Regions from separate parts of the Homo sapiens genome. Here region 1 is linked to region 2. The links come from fine-mapping of genetic effects on plasma protein levels. A gene starts in region 2. The other region holds a variant in brackets. All regions are shown on one strand. Distances are from middle to middle.

What was found. A credible set is the group of variants that fine-mapping cannot tell apart. PIP is the chance, under the fine-mapping model, that this variant and not a neighbour inherited with it causes the effect. Protein levels are from antibody-based Olink assays in UK Biobank. Linkage for the fine-mapping came from a reference panel and not from the study's own genotypes, which makes the PIPs less certain.
Region 1: its variant is the best candidate, but not a certain one, in a credible set for the plasma level of the OSTN protein (UK Biobank, PIP 0.75).

Annotation. Positions count from the first base shown.
Region 1 is chr3:191,123,298-191,126,220 of GRCh38, reverse strand. No RefSeq gene overlaps it. Among named protein-coding and RNA genes, the nearest start is that of OSTN, 74 kb to the left of the region's middle. The variant T/C (reference allele first, on the strand shown) is at 1,195.
Region 2 is chr3:191,197,806-191,200,728 of GRCh38, reverse strand. It overlaps OSTN (osteocrin), which reads right to left and starts at 1,488. Exons shown (of 5, transcript NM_198184.2): 1 at 1,422-1,488.

The DNA.
Region 1 (2,923 bases), 75 kb after region 2:
CCTGGTTTTGACCCTAATTTCTTCACCCTCCAGTCTTACCAGAATGACCTTTGTAAAATACAAATCTCAGTAGTTTAGACTCATGTAAAACACCTAGAGATTTTCATTGCCAAAAGTAATAGTTTCCAAAAGGAGATGCATATTCTCCAGAGAATATGTAAGACAGATTCATTAGATACCAATAAAAATGTGAAAATTTATTTTTATTAAATATTATATTTTTGACTTTTAAAAATTTATATTTTTGTGTATAATTAAGACATATAATATAAAATTACTACTCTGCCTATATGTTCTACAAATAAATGCATATAAACATATATTGTTATACATCACACACTTTACTAATAAATGTTCCCAATCAAAATAATTTGAGGATCACTGACTTACAAGAAAAAAAAAATCCTCCCCCTCCCCCTCCCCCTCCCCCTCCCTCTCCCTCTCTCTCCACGGTCTCCCTCTGATGCCCAGCGGAGGCTGGACTGTAATGCCACCATCTCGGCTCACTGCAACCTCCCTGCCTGATTCTCCTGCCTCAGCCTGCCAAGTGCCTGGGATTGCAGACGCACGCCGCCACGCCTGACTGGTTTTCGTATTTTTTGGTGGAGACGCGGTTTCGCCATGTTGGCCGGGCTGGTCTCCAGCTCCTGACCTGGAATGATCCGCCAGCCTCGGCCTCCCGAGGTGCCAGGATTGCAGACGGAGTCTCAGTCACTCAGTGCTCAATGCTGCCCAGGCTGGAGTGCAGTGGCGTGATCTCGGCTCGCTACAACCTCCACCTCCCAGCCGCCTGCCTTGGCCTCCCAAAGTGCCGAGATTGCAGCCTCTGCCCGGCCGCCACCCCGTCTGGGAGGTGAGGAGCGTCTCTGCCTGGCCACCCATCGTCTGGGACGTGAGGAGCCCCTCTGCCCAGCCACCCAGTCTGGGAAGTGAGGAGCGTCTCTGCTCGGCCGCCATCCCATCTAGGAAGTGAGGAGCGTCTCTGCCTGGCCGCCCATCGTCTGAAATGTGGGGAGCGCCTCTGCCCCGCCGCCCCGTCTGGGATGTGAGGAATGCCCCTGCCCGGCCGCGACCCCGTCTGGGAGGTGAGGAGCGTCTCTGACCGGCTGCCCCGTCTGAGAAGTGAGGAGCCCCTCCGCCCTGCAACCGCCCCCTCCGGGAGGTGGGGGACAGCCCCCGCCCGGCCAGCCGCCC[T/C]GTCCGGGAAGTGAGAGCCCCTCTGCCTGGCCGCCACCCCGTCTGGGAGGTGTACCCAGCAGCTCATTGAGAACGGGCCATGATGACGATGGCGGTTTTGTCGAGTGGAAGGGGGGGAAGTGTGGGGAAAGGAAAGAGAAATCAGATTGTTGCTGTGTCTGTGTAGAAAGAAGTAGACGTGGGAGACTCCATTTTGTTCTGTACTAAGAAAAATTCTTCTGCCTTGGATGCTGTTAATCTATGGCCTTACCCCCAACCCCTTGCTCTCTGAAACATGTGCTGTGTCCATTCAGGGTTAAATGGATTAAGGGCAGTGCAAGATGTGCTTTGTTAAACAGATGCTTGAAGGCAGCTTGCTCGTTAAGAGTCATCACCACTCCCTAATCTCAAGTACCCAGGGACACAAACACTGCGGAAGGCGGCAGGGCCCTCTGCCTAGGAAAACCAGAGACCTTTGTTCACATGTTTATCTGCTGACCTTCCCTCCACTATTGTCCTATGACCCTGCCAAAATCCCCCTCTCCGAGAAACACCCAAGAATGATCAATAAATACTTAAAAAAAAAAAAAAAAAATCAAAGCTCATTAATAGGGATTAAAGATCTTTTTTTGACTTAGCCTCTGCCTGACTTTCTGTGCTTTTCTCTGCCATGGTTAGGTTCTCCTAAATGCAGGTACTAAGATAGAACCAGTGAGGAAAAGGTTTATTGGGAAGTAACACTTGTGAAAGGTAGAGGGAAGAAACAGGATTGGGCATGATGAAGACCCTACATCTCTGCCAACTCAACAACAGGAGTTAGACGAGCCCTGGGTTTGGCAGAAGTGACTCTGCTTTTATACCACTGCTTTGCTGATTTATTGGCCAGGGTCCAAGTCGAAAAGAGCATGACCTCAGCTAAAAAGCTGAGGTGGACCCTGAAGGAACAAATGGCTGGTGGCTGTAAATACCAGCATCTTAAAGGAGGATATGCATGGCACATCTCCATGTCTATTGACTACTCTCAAGTGCACTTCAACACCCTCACCCCCAGACATACAAAGTCACCTCAGTGACTCTTTATATATTTTTTTCTGCATGAAAACACATGCCTCTCAGATTCTTGGTGATTAAACCATACTGCTTGGGTTCTAATCTTAATACTTCTTAGTTCTTTGAGCTTGGGAAAATTACCACACCTCTCTGTGTATTTATAGATGATTATTTAAGTTTCCTCAACTGTAAAATGGGAATTAAAATAGAATATAACTCAGGGAGTTGTCATGTGAAGGTTAAATTGTTGATACATTAAAATGTTTTAAACAGTGCCTGCATGTACCGGATACTCAGAAAATATTACCTATTATGAAATCTCATCACTTATTCAATAAAGTATATAATTAGAATCTCCCTCAAAGTTCCCTTTGAGTATTAGGCAAACCATTATTGTAACACTTAAAAGACTGAGAGATATGCAATTTGGAAAGATATCTGGGGCTAGCTGTTTCTGCTTTATATAACATCAGCTGGTTTGGCTACTTTCAAGATGGCTCACTCATATGTCTGGCAACTTGGTACAGATTGTCAGCCTAGAGGCCATCCAGGAATGGGCTTGGAGCTTGGTTACACTCCATGTAGTTATTTCTGTGTGCTGATTAACCTTTCTTGGGCATGAAATCCCAAGAGAATCAGGCAGAAGCAGTATTGCCTTTTATGACTTAGCCTTGGAAGTCATGTAGAGTTATTTCTGCTG
Region 2 (2,923 bases):
GGGAAAATTGACTGACATGGGGGCTTCCTCAAATATTTTTATACTCAGTATCCCTAGCACTTCTATTTTTTTTTGTCCTTTTCACAAGGACAAAATACAATATTATCAAGCCTTAATTCGTGCTTAAGGCTTGCCTGCAGTTGTATAGGTGGATTATAGCAGAGCTAGAATGATATATTAGGATTTCTTACTTCGAGTTCTTTATTTTTGAGACAAGTTCAATTAATCTAATTTTATTAATCAAATGTTCAAATCATTGAGAGTATTTGTAAAAGAAGTTAAAATTATAGCCCTGAGGTTCCCGTGCCCAGTCAACTGAAGATATCTGCTTCTCTACTGCTCATTATTCAGTATATAAGAATCAGTTAAAAATCCTGAGAAATAAGGGGGAGAAAGCAAATGTCAACCTTAAACACTCTGAATAATTTTTGAATGAAGCCATAGTAAAATTCACTGACATGAAGGAGACCTGAACTGTTATCTACAGAAAGTGCTCCTTAGAAAAGTTCTGTAAGCGTGCTGAAGAGTAGTACCAAAGTAAGAGAAAACACAGAATGTCCCTGGTGTTTTTGGTATAACACTATCAATTCTATAACTTATATAGGCATTAAAATTACCATAATTCATTCTCAAAAATGTTAAATTTTTAGAAGGAAAACTCATAAACAAATAATAATCACATTCCTAAACCTATAGAGTCTGTTATTCAAAGAAACAACATTTGAATTGTTAGAACTGAATTCACTGAGTGCACACTAAACCTGAAATAAAATTTTAAATTTCTTCTCCAACAGAGCTCAAATGTATGTTTCAGATTAACTCTCAATTCAATCATTGAATAGCAAGAGCACTACAAATACTGAAGAACAGGCATACTCTAAGTCTACTCCAACTATGTTATTAATATCATATTTGCATATTTGACATATAAGGAGAAAAACAGAAGATGCATTAGGTTTTAAGAACATAAGAGATAGAATTTCATTAGTTTAGGGATGTTTCTTAAGCTCCAGTTTTGATAGAAATAATGAGGAAAAAACCTTTCTTTTTTACCTAGGTTGTTTAGACCACTCTTTTATATTAAACATTTTTCTAATATTACACAATTTTGAGGAAAGCAAAATAACGCTAATAACATATATATGTATAGAATTATTATTTTGCATTCACTTTCTGTTTGTTTTGAAATGGAAGAGAAAAGCAATCTTATAAATATGAAATATCTGAATAAGCAATTAGTTCTACCTTAAGTTTGCATTACAAAAATATCTTTGATTTTCTACTCATTTTAGAGAGGGAAATATTACCACTCTAATTTTAACAAAATCAAGATATAATCAAAACATTTAAAGAGTCTGTGAAAGTAAAAATAATAGTTAAAAGAAGCATTAAATCTTTATCAATTTTTACATATAACTTACCTCGTGAAAGATCAGGAGATTCTAACTTTAGAGTACTGTCTCTGCAGTTTCTCCAAAACTCAGCCCTGGTGGTGAGTTTTCTCTCTGAGTTTTTATAGTCTCAGTTATACACCCCTTACTCCAATCCCTGCCTTTGCTTTCTCTTACATCATTTCTACAGATTTTCCACTGAACATTTTCCCAAGCCTCTCTTCGATCTCTTTCTCTCCCTCCCTCTCCCTTCCTTCTTCAGTTTCTCCCTCCCTCCTTTCCCTCCATATTTAGTCTATCTATTGCTTTGATCATGGCATTTAAATAACGATGGAAGTATAGGCTCTGGAAAATTTGAATATAGATTTAGTATTGTGTTCAGCTTCACACCCATCACCTCTTCCTGAGGTTTTAGTCAAGCTCTGATTATTACAAATCATATTTGGGAAATAAAATGCACTAAGATTTGTTAAAAAGTCACCAGGGAATTTCAATGTACGATATAGAGAGATTGTAATCAGACACAAACGGATTTATTGGTGTAATTTTTGGACCTTTAAATGATCAGCTATGGAAATAATGAGTACTTTCAGCCTCCGTCAGGTGCACAGTGCTGTGTCAGTGAAACACAATGACAGCTACTTCGTAATTAACATTGCTATACTGGGAAGGCTGTCACTAACAAACCTATAAATACTGAGCTGTGACATGTGAGCTATAAATGAAGACGTTGTAATCATTTTTGTCTTGCTCTTGTTCTTCAGTACTTTGATTTCTTTTTAACCAAAATATTTCTGCCTTTGGCTGAAGGTTTTCTTTCATTCTTATCTCCTACTAATTATATTTGCATCCTTACATACACAAATTATTTTTTAAATGAATTATTAAGTTATAAAGGTAACATGTTATGTTATTAGATCGTTAATGGCTCATTTGATTCACCAGAGGGTCCCCATCTGACAGGTAAAGAGGCCAAGGCTCAGATAAATTAAGTGACTTTATGAGATCACACACGTAAGAAGTAGTCGCAGAGCTGGATTTCAAATGCAGATCTTCCTAATTCCATATCCAGTTCTTTTCCCACGACTGCATTCTATCTCACTGCTTTAAAAGCTAGAAAAGAGAATCCAAACCAGATTATATTTTTGCACAAAAAGCAATAAATTTATTCTTTTTGGTTTCCCTAAAAAGGCCATTTAAAATACTAGTCACTAGTATAAGGACAATTACATGGTTAATTTGGATCTAGATGGGGAAACTGACCAGAGCACACAGAATTAGTGGGACAGTAAAATGCTTCATTTTTATGATGGGTTTCCAGGGATAACATATGTCTCAACAAGCTTGAAATTTGAGTAGTTGGCAGAGACAGTTCACAAATCAAGATAAAAATACAGCCTAATTGTGGACCCTTGTTTAGACATTACTGCCATAAAACAATTATGTTAGCTTGAATCCACATGATGGAAAACTCTCAATATAGAATTAATGGATGCATCATAATGCTACCAGAAGCCAATATTATTGGCATA